2 separate regions of the Homo sapiens genome follow, and region 2 is linked to region 1. The links come from fine-mapping of genetic effects on gene expression. Tissue or cell type: thyroid. Region 1 holds a variant in brackets; the other region holds the start of a gene. All regions are shown on one strand. Distances are from middle to middle.

The links. PIP is the estimated chance that this variant, and not a neighbour inherited with it, causes the effect.
Region 2: it holds the start of INSYN1, and the variant in region 1 is fine-mapped to the expression of INSYN1 in thyroid (GTEx, PIP above 0.99). The same link has a PIP of 0.9 or more in aorta and tibial artery.

What each region holds. Positions count from the first base shown.
Region 1 is chr15:73,796,925-73,805,025 of GRCh38, forward strand. No RefSeq gene overlaps it. Among named protein-coding and RNA genes, the nearest start is that of INSYN1-AS1, 33 kb to the left of the region's middle. RefSeq lists enhancers at 324-1,282, 1,870-2,549, 2,550-3,228. The variant A/G (reference allele first, on the strand shown) is at 4,047.
Region 2 is chr15:73,748,691-73,756,791 of GRCh38, forward strand. It overlaps INSYN1 (inhibitory synaptic factor 1), which reads right to left and starts at 4,661. Exons shown (of 3, transcript NM_001039614.3): 1 at 3,420-4,661; 2 at 2,285-3,007. The coding sequence starts at 2,440. RefSeq lists an enhancer at 2,778-3,551.

The DNA.
Region 1 (8,101 bases):
CCAAGTGGCCCATCAGGGCCTCTACTGGAGCCCGTTTGGACATGCAAAAACCAGCCAAGTTCCAGACAAACAGATGAGTTGGTCACCCTAGCTGGAAAACAATTAGCCCCTTTGACACCCTTAGTTCTGGGAAGCGGGGAGCTGCCATTGAGACACTCTTAGATGGCTGGGGAGCTGCCCCTCCCCTCCTCCCACAGCTGTTCCTTGACCTGAGGTGCCAACATTGGGTCTGTGCGACCACAGGGTCTGTGGGTGCAGCTTCTCTCCTGGGCTAGTCGCCTGTGCGTTCTGCCCAGCAATCTCTACCTCCCCCCTTGGTAGGGAGACAGACAGGTAGATCTGTCTGTCTACCAGCTCCACAGGCAGGTTGTTATCTGATCTGGAGCAAGACATGTCCCTGGTCTGAGCCTTAGTTACTCCCTTTGCCCTTCCTCTAGTTCAGGAGTAGCCTGGTAGTGCCACTCGGGGGTAGCCAGTAGTGTGGTTGGGAGTTGCAGGACAGGAAGGGGCCAGAGATGGACAGCATCATCTGCCTCTGCAGCCTGTCCTGAGGGAGGAGCTCTCAGAGTGTGGGAGAAATCTCGCCCAGCTGCCACCCTGCTGTGGGAGTGGGGCGCCCATGGAAGGAGCCAGTCCGAGGCGTTCTGCCATCCTCTGCTCACCCACCCACTCCTGGCATGCATTTGCAAATTCTTTGGCTAAGGTAGCTAGTTCTCCACAGGCGCTATTACCTGAGACCTGCCAGCTAGTGACAACAGAAAGCCCGCACGTTGACGTCCCTCTTTGGCTTGCCTGGAAGTCTACTCGGGGCTGCAGGACTGGCAGGAGCGGGGGCTAGGGTCAGAGTGGGGCAGAGACCGTGGCTGCTTATGGGGCAGGGAGAGGGTCTGGGCCGGGTCAGGGGCTGGGGGAGTGGGAGGATCTGGAGAGGATGGGCTTTCCTGGGGAGCTGGGGGAGCATCCCATGGGTGTGCTCTGCTGAGTGACACAAATCTGGCTTTCACTCACTCATTCATTAATGCATTCATTCATTCACTCATTCATTCATTCGCTCAACAGAGGTTTACTGAGCAGCTGCCAACTGCAGGCCCCATTCTGGGCCCTGGGGGAACTTAGGAAGGAAACAGGCCAAAGCCAGAATACCAGTCCCAGGAAGCCACCTTTTCTCCAGGGGTGTGGTTCATGCCCCCTCCTGGCTTGGCCCCCTCCCTGGTGGACCCCCTACCTTCTCTATCACAAGTCCAGGTCTGCAGTAAGGTAGACACAGGGTCCTGGGGTTCCAACCTGGTCCAAGGGAGCAGCCTGGAGTGTGCTTAGAAACATTTGTTGACTAATGGGCTCAGGGACTGAGGGCCTGGGGAGCCTGATCAGGGAGCCTGCACCTGCCTGTCCCTCGATGTCATTCCCTCAGTCTTCCCGGCACTGAATGAGGCCCAGTGTGGGCAAAGCCGCGTCATCCTTAGCAGGGGCCCCCATCCCAGGGCTTATGAGGCACCCCAGCTCCCCAGGAGCCCCTCTGGGAAGCTGCAAACTCTGCTTTCCATACTTCAGAATTCATCTGTCCTGCCACCCCTTCCTTCAGACCCCCTGGGAGTCAATGGGACTCAAGGGATCAGTGAAATAACCCAAAGTACATTTATGATACAACCCCCTCAACCATGCATTCTGCACCTCCACACCCCTCCAAAGCCCTGCCCTTGGGGAGCCTGGAGACACATGGAGAGGGACCTGCCTGGGTCCTAACAACTGTAACATGTGAACACTGACCCCAAGTGACATGGAACCCTTGTGATATGGCAGGTGCCACACTTGGCACTTTACATACATAGTCACATGCACTGCTTATAGTAACCCCGGAATAGGCACTATCACTATCCCCATTTTACAGATGAGGACACTGAGGTGTAGGGAGGGCTCTCACTTGCCCATGATCATTCAGCTGGGGAGTGGGACCTCACACACAAACCCAGGGGTCTGACTGCTGAGCCCATGCTCCTAATGTCCACACGGTGCCCTCCTACGAAGCGAACCTAACAGCAGAGCACGATTAACAGCAGGTGAGGACAAAAGTACATCAGCCTGTTGGTGCTCAGAGGGGACGAGGCCCCTGTAAACGGAACACTCAGCGAAGGGCCCTAAAGGAGCGGGGATGGGGGCTCCTCAAGGCAGATCCTGAGCAGGACCCGCCCAGCACCCGCTCCCAGCCTGTCAGGAAGGCTGAATGAAAGAACACCGTGTGGATCTTCCTCTGGCCCTTGGAGGCTGTGCCCTCTGCTCAGAGAGGAGGAGCAAGGACATTAGCAGGAAGGGCTGCAGAGTGAGCTAAGGTCTGGAGGTGAGGATGACTCTGAAGGCCTTCCTGGAGAGCAGGCTGAGGAGGTAATGCCTGACTTGGTGGGGGAGGGGTGCTGAGGACCCGCAGGCCACTGTGGAATTGGACCCATCTGGCTGAGGCAAAGGCGCTGGCAGTTATGTTGCACTAAGTGGGCCAAGAGGTGACCTCTGCTTTGGTCTGACTTTGGCCACAGACCTAAGAATCTGGATACAGTTGGGCTAGAAGGGCCTTGGCAGACTGCACAGCTCAACCTGTCTTGTGCAGGTGGGAAGTGGGAGATCCAGGGAGGAGGGACTTGCCTGCACCCTCCCCACCTCCTGCTTGGGTGTGTGGCCCTCCCGCTGGGTGGGAAGAGCAGGCAGGAAACATTGTCTGAGGTTTCCAACCACACGGGAGGAACCCTGAAAAGACATTCCTGAGAGAGGCATAAACTAAGACCTAGAAAAGACAGAGGCTGACCTCACAGCCCCTGACTTCCTGCTTCAACCTCCCTTCCCAGCCCAGGCCAGTCTCTTCCCCATGGTCGCACCTTTGCTCAGCAGTTCTTCCCAGCGGGAATGACTGCCCCCACTTTCTATCTTTCTGTCTCTCTAACACTCACTTGATATTGACTGGACTTTTATGTATAGTTGGGCCCAACCCTTAGAACTAGCTCCAAGGGCTCTGGTTCCTCCAAGAATTCTCCCGTGATCGCATCTACCTGCTGACCTCTCACTCCCTTGTGTGACCCTGAACCTGAGACTGGCTCTGACGAGACAAATGGGGTGCTGTGAAACTTCCCTCATCCGTCCACAGGCCTGCTGCTCCTCCCCTGCCATGCTCTGAGCTCCCTGAAGAGGTGACCCCACTGCAGGCTGCCCTCCAGTCCTCTCTGCAACTCCCAGAGCAATCATACTGGAGAAGAGAAGGTCACCAAGGCCTGGGTCCCAGGGGAAGCTGAAGAAGACCCCTCCAGCTCACACTGCCTGCCCTTGTCACCTGCATGGACAGAGAAATGGCTTCTGTCCCTGCAGTCAGACAACCAGGCTTGTGGGCTCTGTAATCTCCATGACTTTATCCACCCTTCCCCTCAGGGTCTTACGGGACATCGCTATCTTTCAATCTCTCCAAGACTTATTTAGCCAGAGTCTTTACCACACTCCTACCTGAGTTTATCCAGCTTCTCTTGCATGCCTCCGGTGACAGGCTGCTCACTATCCACAGGGTCACTTCTTATCCTACCAGGGCTGGTCAAAACCTGTGTCTCTTTAGGTCAGCAGTGCCTGGTGCCAGAGGTCCTATCAGTAGACCCAAAGCTGGGTGAACAAAACAAAGGCTGGGCAACTCACTGTCACCTGGGCATGTGACCAGCCTTTGCTCTCCACTCTGGCTAATTCTTTTGTCTGGGGGCCACATCGCCTGCCTGCCCTCCCTCCTTCTGTGCGATTTTCTTCTTCTTCTCTCTTTCCTCCCCCCACTTCCTTGTATCTAAGGATTGCATGAGTCACTTCACTTTGAGCTGCCAGATGTCGGATGCAGTTGGGCTTGGAGTGGAAGCCAATTTTTTCCCTTTACTCAAAAAGAGCTTGGGGCTGATGAAAGCCCCCAACACTGTCATCCTGGATTTTTCAGGACGGTAGGATGGCTGCGTCAGCTAGCACCACTTCTTCCAGGTTCTGGCCTGCCCACCGTCCGTTCCCAACTTGGGAGGGCAACTTGTCCTCTCACTGGC[A/G]CCAGGCATAGGGCCAGGCCAGCTCTGTGCAGTCCAAGGCACGCTCAGAATGGCCCTCATCATCTGGCCATGCAGAGCTTTGCCAGTCTGAGTGGAGCCCAGGGCTCAGGGCCAATCCCCGCTCCATCCAGGGAGTTTTCAATGAGAGCTAGGTACCTAGCTCCATGCTGGAGCTGTGGGGGAGACAGGAAAAAATAAAGAAGGGCCTCGCCTTCAAGGAATTGGCAGTCTGTCTAGGGAGATGAAATTCATACAAATAGTGGTTCATGCGTTTCTGTTTGGATTGTGCATCCACTCCCAGACATGACCTCATCCAGTTCTCACAGCTATTCAGCATGGGTGTCATCATCTTCGTTTTACAGATGAGAAAAATGGGGCTCTGAGAGATTAAGTGACTTGCCCAGGTCACATAGGTGGTTGTGGAGCTGGGCCCTGCCTCATTCGCTGGGCTCCAGAGCCTGGCATCTGTGCTGAAGTTGGAAAGGAGGGAGGGATGGCTTCCAGGAGGAGAAGGCCCACTGTCCTCTCCCCGTCTCCTCCAACTGAGGCTGGGCTCTCTCCTTTGCCATGAGAATATACCTATCTTGAGCACATTCCAGAGGTGCTAGGCAGGCCAGAGATCTTGTCTGTTGGGGAGTATGGAAGTGGTGGGGTGCTTTCTTAGATTGGGCTCCCTTGAACCTAAAGCCTGGGGCCAGGACTTGGGTACAGGAAGTGTATTGGGAGATTTCAGGAAGAGGGTAGCTGGGTAGTGAGACAGGGAAGGAGGAAAAGCTGATATAAAGGAGCATTAACAGAGAAGCCGCTGTGGAGGGCAGGGCTCTACTCCCCTGGTATCTCCCAGGACTGAAGGCCTAAAGGACGGAAGTCAGGGGGGCGGGTTATATATTGGCCACCATCACCCATTGGTTGGGGGGCTTCTCCAGGGAGGTGATGGCTCCTCTGGACTCCAGGAAGAAAGTGGAATCCCTGGCCTCAAGTGCTTGAAGCGGATGCTGAACTTGCACAGAACTGCCTATCCCAGAGTGTGGCTGGGCTGGAAGTGTCTTCTGCGGCAGAGAGTTAGGAACATTTGGTTCCGGGCAACCACATCTTAGGCCCTGCTGCCACCATGGAAGGCCCTGCTTCAATGACCCAGTGGGCAAGTTTTATCGAGCAGTTACTGGTGGGTGTCTGGCTGGGAGTCCCGGAGTCAGGTCAAGAGAGAAGTAAAGATTTAGGGGAAGGGGAAGAAAAAGACGTCTACACACTCCTGATTCATTTTGCCTACCGTCAGCATCAGTTCCGTAAATCTCTCCCCTTCCTGCTGGCTGGCTGGTTCCTCAAGGGCAAGAATCAAGTGCTATCCATCCGTGTGCTCAGCTCCAGCACAGGGCCTAGCCCCGACATGCCCAGAGGTGCTGCACTGAAAATCCAGCATGGGATTATGGCCCAGCCTTGGCTCTTGGCTGCCAAAGGTTGAATGTGGGTCTCTGGGCTCATCTCACAAGGCCCTGGGTCTCCAGGGCAGGGGAAATGAGGAGCAAAGCCACCCTTTTTTTTTTGTCATTAACAGAGTAGGGCCTCTGGCTCATAAAGCCCTGGGATCCCGCTCCCTCCCTTCTCTTTCCACTTGATTACTTGTCTCTGGAATGGAGTGGTTTCAGGCTGCCAAGTGTTTTGGGGAAAATATCCTGTATAAGAAAGACACATTCCCTCCATAAACTCGTATTGTGTTTTTGATTGTCTCCCATAAAGGAAGAGATGTATCTTCCAGTTTATGTTTACGACTGTGTAGATTAAAAAAAATCAATTCTTTCACTCTACATTTTTTCAGCCAAACTTCCCCCAGCAGCCTTTCTGCTGGGCCAACAGGCTGATGCCCAGAACTCGGGGCTGGAGGTTTCTCTGCCATCTGTAGGCAAGCAGGAGAGGCCAAAGCCTCGGACTGGCTGCAGGCCTGGCACAGGAAGGGAACTTCTTGTCCCTGCTTGATTTCTAAGCCAAGTTGGCTCTGGAAGGCAAGGGGTTGGCTGAGAGAAGGTGGCCGGCAGGGAAATAGGAGGCAGCCCCAGCCTGCACCAGCACCCTTCACCAGGCCCAGTGAAGCCTCTGATGGAGGTGGCAGGGAGCTCTCCCCGACCAGCCTCAAGTGCTGCTGCCTCCTTCATGAAGCCTTCCTGATTGCCCAGGGTAAATGGAACTCCTTGATCTGTTAGCTTCTTTGCTGGACCCTCTAGATTGATTTCTGATTGATTTTTGTCTGCTCCAGGGTCATTTGGAGTGATGGTTGCCTGGTATTTGAATAAAGAGCTCCCCTATCAGAACATTCAGGTTCAAATCTTAGTGCCTCTGTTCCTACTGTATGACCTTGGGCAACCAACCTACTTAACCTTTCTGAGTCTCACTTTCCTCAACTGGCAGATGAGGGGCATTTTGAGGATTAAACCAGGGGTATTTTGAGGATTATGGTCGGGTTTCAAACCATACCTTCTTTCCTGCTTTCTTTTTCTCCACATCACTTAGCACCATCTCACATCTTATGCTTCGTTTTGTTCAGTGCCTGTCCGCCCTCACTCCAGGAGGGCAGGGGTGCCTGTGCATTGCTCCCTGCCACATACCTGGCACAGAGAGGCGGCTCCATGGAGCGGACCGGATGGATGGTGCAGGATGAGCACCAGGCTCCGCATCAGGGCACAGTAAATGTTGGCTCTGTGCCCTTTCATGTCTGGAATCCCCAGTTTGGCATTGCAGGCAGGGGAAGCACTGTCCATCCAAGGCCGATCCTGAAGGTGGCCCAAGAGCCTGTCCCCAGCAGCAGACTGCAAACCCTTTGGGTACAGGGACTGTCTCTTGCCATTCCAGGGTCCTCAATGCCTATCAAGGGGCTTGCTCACATGGGCCCTCTTGGGATCAGAATTTCTTCCTATAAGAGGCCAGAGAACTGATGGAGGGTAGTTTTAGTCTAAACCATGCTGGCGGGTGCCAGGCTGTGGACTGCCCCATGTCTGTCACCAAGCTCAGCCCAGATGAGCCAGGCATAGGTCACCAACACACTCGCCCACCAGCTCAGCCCACAGCTCACACTAGCCTCAGTTATCTGGTTCCAGTTTGCCAAAGGCACTCTGACTCCAAGGTGGAGTGGGGAAGCCACTGACTTCTGTGTCTGGCAGGCTCCATTTCTGGAGAGTCAACTGAGGCCAAGCCCAACCTTCTTGAGCCTCACTTTTGACATCTGCAGAATGGGTGTGGGTGGAGATTTCAAGCAGGAAGCTAGTTCTCCAGTGGGACCCCTTCTCCTGGCAGCCCCTCGACTTGCCGCAAGTTCCAGCAATCACCCCTCACCTCCCTCTGCTTTTCCTCAAACCTTTTACAACCTTTTATTTTGTCTAATCCTCATGACAGATTGGTGGAAAAGCCACCAGGAGTTATTATGCTCATTTTAAAGATGAAGAGACTGAGGCCAAGAGGCAAAAATCATGCTTGGGGGTTGGCGAGGGGGTCCCCCAGCAGCCTGGGGCCAGACAGACAGTTCTCCTGCCTACCAGGCAAGCCCCAGCACCAGCTCCAAGCATCTGGAGGGCTGCAGCAGGGCGCTGGAGGGCTGCCCCCTGTCCCCCTCCCTCCCTCCCAGCTCCACTGGGGGGGTCTGCCGGGCTCTTCTCCCTCTGCCTTCTAATTGCTTGGAAACAGAGCTGACGGCAGTGGGAACAGCTCAGCCACTGCTGGTCTCATGACTGGAGGCTTTTGTTTGTTCACAGAATCATATTTTTACACTCTGGCTTCCGCTAATTTATGCCGCAGACTGAGCTCTCCCTTGCTGAAGATTGAGTTTGGGAGGGTGGGGAGTTGATTCCTGGGTTTATTTAGTCATCTTGGAGCCTATCAGAAGCCAAGCAGGGGATAAATTAACAACAACAAAAAGTAATAATAGCCAGGCTCAGGGTTTATTTTCTGGCGGTTCCCTCCTCCAATAGGCCTGCCGTGTTCCCTTAGCTCATCTGCTGAAGGAAGCTTCGCTGGGAAAATTAAACGGCTCCTCATTTAAGATGGAGCAATCAGCCCTGAGCTAGTCG
Region 2 (8,101 bases), 48 kb before region 1:
ACCCCCCCTTGGTAACCCCATCCCTGGCAAATCCCATCTCACAGGAAGACGGTGATGGCATCTCTTCTTTTGCTTGGGCCTCCCAGAGCTTCACCTGCCTTCCTCCACACTCCCCTCTGCCTGTCACCCTGTGTCTAGACCCTGCCTGGGGGACGAGAGAGTTCTGAGGCTTACCCACTCCCCCAGCTGGGTGCCATTGGCAGCGGGCAGGCAGTGGCATACGGGGTAGGCTCTGGTTGCCGTAGCAACCTGCCAAAGTCTTGGGTGGAGGCACATGGCCTACAGGGTGTGTGGGGGGAGGGGACTCATTTTCTCTGTCCTGGCTGAGGCCTCTGGGCTGCATAGCCTGTGAACCTGGAGCTCTGCTATTGGAGACATGGGAGTGGGTGAGTGTGAAAGGGAAGGAGAGGGCATCTAAACGATCTGCAAATAAATCCTAGAGCTATTGCATCACAGATGAGCATAAGAGATCATCTCTGGAAGGCCCCTGTCAAAATGCAAAGAGATCGCCCAGTAGCTCACCTGCTGAAACCCCAGAAAAGGCATCAGGAACCCGAGTTCTAGGCATACTTCTGCCACTGGTAGGCTGTGTAACCTTGGACAAGCCCCTATTGCTCTCTGGGCCTCAGTTTCTTCAATAGTAAATGGACAGAGCTGGTCTGGATTACCTATGAGATCCTTTGAAGCTCTGGGTGGCTATGCGGTGGGGAGAGGGAACACAGATGCCTGGAAGATGCCCAACTGGGAAAAGGCTGGGAGTTGTATCAGAGTTGACTCCCAGGCCTAGAGTCAATCCTGGCTCTTTGTGGGTACCTGCCGGGGCATAGGTCTCATGTCCCTGGCCAAGACTGAGACTTTGGACAGTTCCCATGGCCCTGATCTAAAATAAGATGGAGGCAGGGGGAAAACTGTAGTGCCTTGGACCCAAGAGTTTGGAGGAGGAAGCGTTCCGCAGGGGCATCTGGCGCTTGATCTCCAAATTGTACTGTCCAAAGATGTGCAACCCAGACTATGGCCGGCCCAGTCCATGGGCAGAAGCACCACCACCTCAGTCTGCCTGAAGCAACAGTCATTCTCATCTTCTGAGATGGGATTTCCTGGTAGGCTCCACGAGGCTGACCCTGGACAGCTCTTGTCCTGGCATCTCTATGCCCACTCCCTATCCCATTCTGAACACAGTGCCCTTCAAACAACCCCTCCTCCTTGGCTCTCAGGCCAGGCTGCAATGCCACTTTGCCAGCCTGGAGTTGGTACCTACCATCACCCCACCTCTTCAGCCTTCCTAGAGCCCCTATCCTCCCTGCACAGCTGGCCAGGGAGAGCTTGAGCCCATAACTCCAATTCAATCACTCTCCCTGCCATCTCTGCAGGGGCCCTGATTACAAGGAGTTGAAATTTGCCTAAAGCCCACCTGGCTGGTATAATGGCACCCAGTGGGCAAATTCAGGCTAGCAGCTCAGAACGCTGGTCATGCATTTTGGACTCGAACGCAGCACAGGGGGCAGGGCTGAAGACATGTGTACCTCATTACCCTAGCGATGTGAGAAGCAGTAATTAAACCAGGCTCCACTTAGAAAGACAGAGAGGGACACACACATCCCAGCATTTCTCAGTGGCTTTTCAGCCTTGGCAAAAATATTTAGAACAGTGGGATGGAGACTCGCATCCCCTTAGGGAAGACTCCTGCCCCTGCCAAAATATGCAAGGAACTCTGTTATCCACTACAGCACCCCCAGACCCATTCTTACCCCCGGACAAAGAGGACATAGCTGGCTTAAATTTTTCCAAGATCAAGGGTTCTCAGTATCTGTGTGATTTCTAGGGATATGCTTTGAGCTGGGCCTCAAGCAGTGGAAACCACCTCAGCACAACTATCTGCACTCTCCCAGGGTCCCTTGTGACCAGATCAGAGTCTGGGAGACAGATGGTGGGTTCAAGGGTCAGCTTGGGTCCCAGAAGGTTGTCTTCCACTAAGAAGCTGTGGCGGGATTCAGTCCTTACTGGCCATCTTGGCAGCCCTTTGTGCTAACCCAGAGCTCCAGGCCCACTGACATGCTGCTCAAGTAACCTCTACAACACCGAGGCCCCTCCAGCCTTGGGGTCTGATGAGATTTTTAGCAAAGCAGATTTGCGGAAAGGAGAGCAAGGAGAAAGAAGGTCCCCAGTAGAGTGACACATGTGCACGCAGCTTTGCACACTCCAACGTATTTATGAGTACGTTTTTGTGCCAAACCCAAGAAGGTTGGCTTAGGGTCTGTCTGGTCCCTCCTCACCCCTCACTTACCTCCCTCAGCTCCTTGGCCACCTCCTTGAGCTCGCGAAGGATGCCCTCAAGCTGCCCGATGACCATCTTCATGCGCTGTCGAATCCGCTCCCGCTCACCACCACTGCTGGGGTCGTCACTGGGCTGCCCGAGGTCCGGGGCGCCCCGAATGTTCATCGTTTACCACGTGGCCGCAGGCCTGCCCATACTCCCCCCAGCTGGGCACACACTGCGTCTGCCTCCACGGAGCCCCCCTCGGCTGGGCAGAGCTCCACATTTTAACGGCCCCCCAGCCCACCCTGGCCCTGGGCGGCCCTCAACCAGCCCCTGCCCCCTGCCACCCAGCCTCCTCTGCCTCTGGGTGGAGAGTGGGACACCCAGAGGGAGACAGAGTCTAGCAGAGGGGGTCAAGGTGAGGACACAGGAGAGGAGGGGGAGGGACCTTGGGTCCCAGGAGTGGCCTCCAGGTCTTGAAGTGCCTGTGGGTGTGCAGAGCTGATCTCTGCCTGAGCTTGAACACAGAGGCAGGGGGATGACTCTGCAGGGACTAAGGGTAAGAGATGCCCTTGGGATGGGGGAAGGCAGCAGGGATCCCCTCACAACTCCTAGGCAGTTGCAAAGGCAGAGGTCTCTGGATGCAACTGACACCTGCAGAGGGATGGTGGCCAGGGTCTTCCAGATGTGGAAGGGGCTCCGGATATGGGCAGCTCTGGGGAGGGAGCTGGATTGGAAGAGGGCAGCCCCCTGCGGAGAGAGCGAGCCTGGCGTCAGCCCTCCCAGGCTGCAGCACCAGCCGGCAATGCCGCTGCCTCCCTCCTCTCGCCAGCCTGCACCCTTCCTCGCTGGGGATTTTTTTTTCTTTGTGGGGAGGGGTGGTGGAGGCAGACGGTTTACAGCACAGCCCCTCCTCTAGAGGGAAAGGGAGGGAGCCCCTGCTTTAGAAGCAGAAGTCCTCAGCCTGCTACGGGGCACCCTGGCCGTAGCTCCCGCCCTCCCCCCCCACCTTCCCCCCAGCCAGGCCTGCCCAGGCTGGTTCACCAGAGGGCCTCTCCAGTCACCCATCCTCCCTCCTAGCGCCCCCAGGGTGCCCTCGTTCCCAGCGGACCCTCCCTCCCCCAGCCCCGCCTTCCCTCAGAACCCCCACTCCTGGACTCACCGAGGGTGGGGGCACCGGCCTTCCCTCCAAGCAGCGTCGGGGGCCAAGCCCCAAGACGGAGTTGGGGGGCCCCCAAGGCTCCCTAGGGCGGGCTTCTCTCTCTGGACCCTTCGGCCCCGGGCCTCAGGGAGGTCCTCCGAGCCGTGACCGGAGACATCTGGGCGGTGGGAGGGGGCGGGGCCTCCGCGCTCCAGGGAAGGGGGCAGGAAAAATCTTTCTCAAGCCTCTCCAGGCTCGGGGTCGGGAATGAGCGAGGGTCCGGCAGATTTGGGGCTCCGAGGCCACAGGTGACCGGGGCGCGGGGAGGCCGAGGAGACGCCGGGCAGGTCCCAGCGCGTGAGCCAAAGTCGGAGGGCTGGGAGGGCGCCGGGATCCCCTCAGCCCACGCCCGGCATTCCCCGGGCTCTGCACCGTCCGGGATTCGCTCTGTCCAGTCCAGATCGGCCGGGTCCGTGTTCCGCTGGGGTCTGCCCTGCCCTACCCCGCCCGGAGTGAGCTGGCACCGCCGGGCGCCCGGGACGCGCTCAGCCCGGACCCAGAACGTCCGTGCCCCGGCACCCGCGGCGTCCGGAGCGGCCGCGAGGGTCTGCTCAGCCCAGCCCCGCGGTCGGCCCTGGGCGAGACCGCTCCCACGGCTCAGTTCACGTTCCGAAAGGTCCGGAATCCACCGGGTCCCCGAGGAGGGGCGATGTCAGCCGCGGGGACCCGGTCCCCGCCGGGCCCAGCCGAGAGCGCGCGAAGCCGGGGGCCCCGGCCGGGCTGGGTTCGGCGGCCCGGGCGCAGGCGGGAGCAGCGCCGGGCGGAGGAGAGGAGAGGAGGCGAGAAGAGGCGAGGGGAGGAGGCGCGGCGAGGGGAAGGGAGGGGAGGGGGCGAGCGGCGGGCCGGGCCGGGCCGGGGCGCACTAGGCTCGCAGCCTCCGCTCGGCTCCGCTACCTCCCGTCCGTTCGCTCTCGGCTCCCCGCCTCAGCAGCCCCCGGGCGCCGGGTCGCCGCCGGTGGGGCAAACAGGCGCCGGGTCGGGGCTGGGCCTCCCTTCACCGCCTCGCCCTGCCCTGCCCCGCCGGGCTCCCGGGGCCTGGGCCCGCTCCCCAAGCGCCGCGGCGCCGCGCCGCCCGCGCCCCGGCCGCCCCCGGCCCGCCCCGCCGCCCCCCGCCGGACTGGCCGCCCGGGCGGGCGCTGGCTCCCTTAAAGGCCGCCCGGCTCGCTTGGCTCCGCTTGCCTCGGCGCTGTCAGGGAAGGGGCCGGCCCGCCGCGCCGGGAGGGAGCTTTTAAAGCGACACACACGCCTCCCAACCCCGAGGGCCAAGCGTGCGAGCCAGGGGGGTCTCGCCACCCGGGCGAGGGGGAAGGGTCTCGCTGGCGGGGCTGGAGGCGGACTGACCGGACCCCACGCCGGCTGACCTGGGGCGCGGAGGGACAGCGTTCTGGGGACTTCGTTCCTTTCCCACCTCTCCAGACACCCCCATTGCCCCCTTCCCCTACTGCACTGCCCCCAAGCTTCCCTTTTGGCCACGTTTCCCGCATCCAGACCCTCCCTTCTACCACCCACATAACCCAGCCCCTGACCTTGCCTGAAATCACATTCATTCAGAAAATAGAATACTGCCAACCTTTCCTGAGAACCTACTGTGTGCCAAGCTCTGGGTCGGCAGGGCTGGGGGTTGGAGGCTGTCTTGGACACCCATCGTTTCCTTCAGCTATTCAACAATTGACTCATGTATTAGAGGCCTTCTGTGCATCAGGTTCCATGCTAGGCTCCGGGGCCACCAGAGCATTTCAGGAAGCTCACGGCTCGGGGACACTCCTGAGTCACAACAGAGGCAAATTCTGGAAGCAATGTTAACAGGGGAGTAGGGAAGTGTGGGTTGGGTGGTGCAGTTCAGGCCAGGGCCTGGCGGGTTCTGCCAGGTAGGCCACCCCTGAGCTGAATCTCAAAGGAGGAGTAGGAGTGACTGTCAGTGTGGGGGGTTGGGGATCAGCATTCCAGGCAGGGAGGAGGGTGGGAGCACAGGCTCAGAAGCAGAAATGGGAGGAGGGGAGTTTAAGTTAACTGGGGCCTTTTAGATACCATTTTGACTGCAGACCACAGAGAGACTCAGAGACCATGGTTAGGAGCTTAGATTTTATCCCGGGGCGGAGGGAGCTTTGATATTGGGAGGAACCTGGGCCTGCTTGCCTTCTCAGGAAACCCCTCTGGGGCATTGTGAGTGGGTGTGAGGAGGTGCCACCGAGATAGAGCAGTTAGGAGGCTATTTCACCGTTGGCCAGAAGACAGTGGAGTCTATGAATCTATGCTCATGAGAGAGGCTGGGGCTTGAGAGTAACATTTTGTTTGTTTTTTTTTTTGAACCATCATTAGAGGGGTGAGATGAACAGGGACGCTGCGTAGAAGTAACAAAAGCAGTAGTTCTGGGCTGGAACCTCAGAAAAGAGTCCATGAGTGAGAGGGAGGAGTGATTAGAAAGATAGGAGAAGAACCAGAAAGTGGAGAGTTATGTAGGCCCAGTAGGAGGAGTTTGGGAGAAGCAAGTGCTCATCAGTGTCGAACGCGGCAGGGAGTGGCTGTGAGAGAAGGAACAGAAAGTGTCTATTTGTCTTGGTACTCAGGAGGCCACGGGTGACATGGCAGGGGCAATTGGTTTTGGAGGGTAGAAGGTGACAGGAACCAAACTGTTGGGCATCGAGGACTATGTGCCCAACAGTGAGGAACAGGAGTGAGTACAGATGACATTTTCAAAAGTTTAAGTGGCGGGGAAGCAGAGATCTTGAACTAGAGGCAGAGGAGGGGTCAAGGGAGGTGGGGCTAGGTGGTGGTTTTAGGCTGGCCCATGGGGGACTTGAATTCCAGAGACAGTGATGGTACTGTGGGTGCTAATGATGTTCCTTGGTCTCTGAGTTATCTCAGAGATGTATTCACAGGGGGCTGCTGGGGGAACTGACTCCTACTTCCTTGAGATTCAGCTCAGGGGTTGCCTTTGGAGAACCAGAAGCTGTGAGGGTGGGAATCCAGCTGCCCTGGGTTGGGGAGATGTTCTTCTGATGGGGTGGATCCAGAGGGCCCACCAATCACTTAAAAAATTGTAGCAAAATATGCGTAACATAAAATCTACCTTTTTTTTTTTTTTTTTTTTGAGACAGAGTCTCGCTCTGTCACCCAGGCTGGAGTGCAGTGGCGCGATCTCGGCTTACTGCAAGCTCCGCCTCCCAGGTTCATGCCATTTTCCTGCCTCAGCCTCCCAAGTAGCTGGGACTACAGGCACCCACCACCACGCCCGGCTAATTTTTTTGTGTTTTTAGTAGAGACGGGGTTTCACCGTGTTAGCCAGGATGGTCTCCATCTCCTGACCTCGTGACCCGCCTGTCTCGGCCTCCCAAAGTGCTGGGATTACAGGCGTGAGCCACTGCGCCCGGCCTAAAATCTACCATCTTAACCATTCGTAAGTGCATAGTTCAGTGGCACTAAGTACATTCACATTGTTGTGTAACCATCACCACCACCCATCTCCAGAACCTTTTCATCATCCCAAACTGAAACTCTGTGATTAAGAGCTGATAGCAGCCACTCTCTGTGGAGCACCTACCAGGCACCAGGCACTGGGCCAAGTACTTCCACATGCATTATCTTATTCCATCTCACAGTGACTTTCCATCACCCCTCCCCCCGCCAGCCCCTGGCAACCACCATTCTATCTTCTGTCTCTGTGACTCTGACTACTCTAGGTGCCTCATATAAGTGGAATCACACAGTCTCACCAATCACTTTTGTGGAAGCAGTGATGCTAAGGAACAGCCGAGACCAAAAATGGGCTAAGCCTGAAAAAAAAGAGTTTCTAGTCTTAGGTCCAGGGAATCATCCGCCCTCATCCAGGATGAGGGAGATGTGTTTGAACTGGCAAGGTTAGGAGACAGTGAGCTTGATTGGACAGGGTGGACTGTGACTGCTTAATACATAATTGATCTCGGGTCTCATTAATAGAAGCACAGTGTTTTGAAAAAGGGAGGTAACATTTCTTCTGTCATTTGTGTGGATCAAACTGTGCCTAGCACCTCAATTCATTGGGTGTGTCCATAGGAGGACAGCCAAGTAGAATAGGGGAGGTGACTGGTGTATATGTTCTATGAAGGATGGTAGGGCTGGTCAGAGCAGGCTAGAGAAGAGGAGACTCAGGAGAAGGGGTCTCTGATTGTAAATCTCCAAAGAGCTGCCACAGGCGAGAGGGAATAGATAGTATCTGGGTGGTGCTCAGACCTGCCTTCCTTAGTGTTTGGGGATTGATCCATCCTTTCTTCCACCCAACCTCCCTGGCCACCTGCCTAGATGTCCCATCCTTTAGATCTCTGCTTATTCACCGCCAACCTCCACCCTCTAGGCAGCCTTCCCTAGTGCTTTAGTCTACGGAGAGAAATGGAAGCACTTTTTTTTGCCCTTAACCAAATGCTTCCCAGGGCATTCATTTAATGTGCTAGCTGTGTGACCTTGAGCAAGTCACTTAACCTCTCTGAGCAAGGATAGCAGCCTATAAACATTTTAATTCTTTCTTGAATTGGGTCTCTTGTAAAAAAAAAAAGGGGGGGGGATGTATTTCACTGTCTCTCTGATTCAGAAAAATCAGGACAATAATGACTACTTTCCAGGGTCACTGTGAACATGGAATAAGATAATGCACATGGAAGTACTTGGCC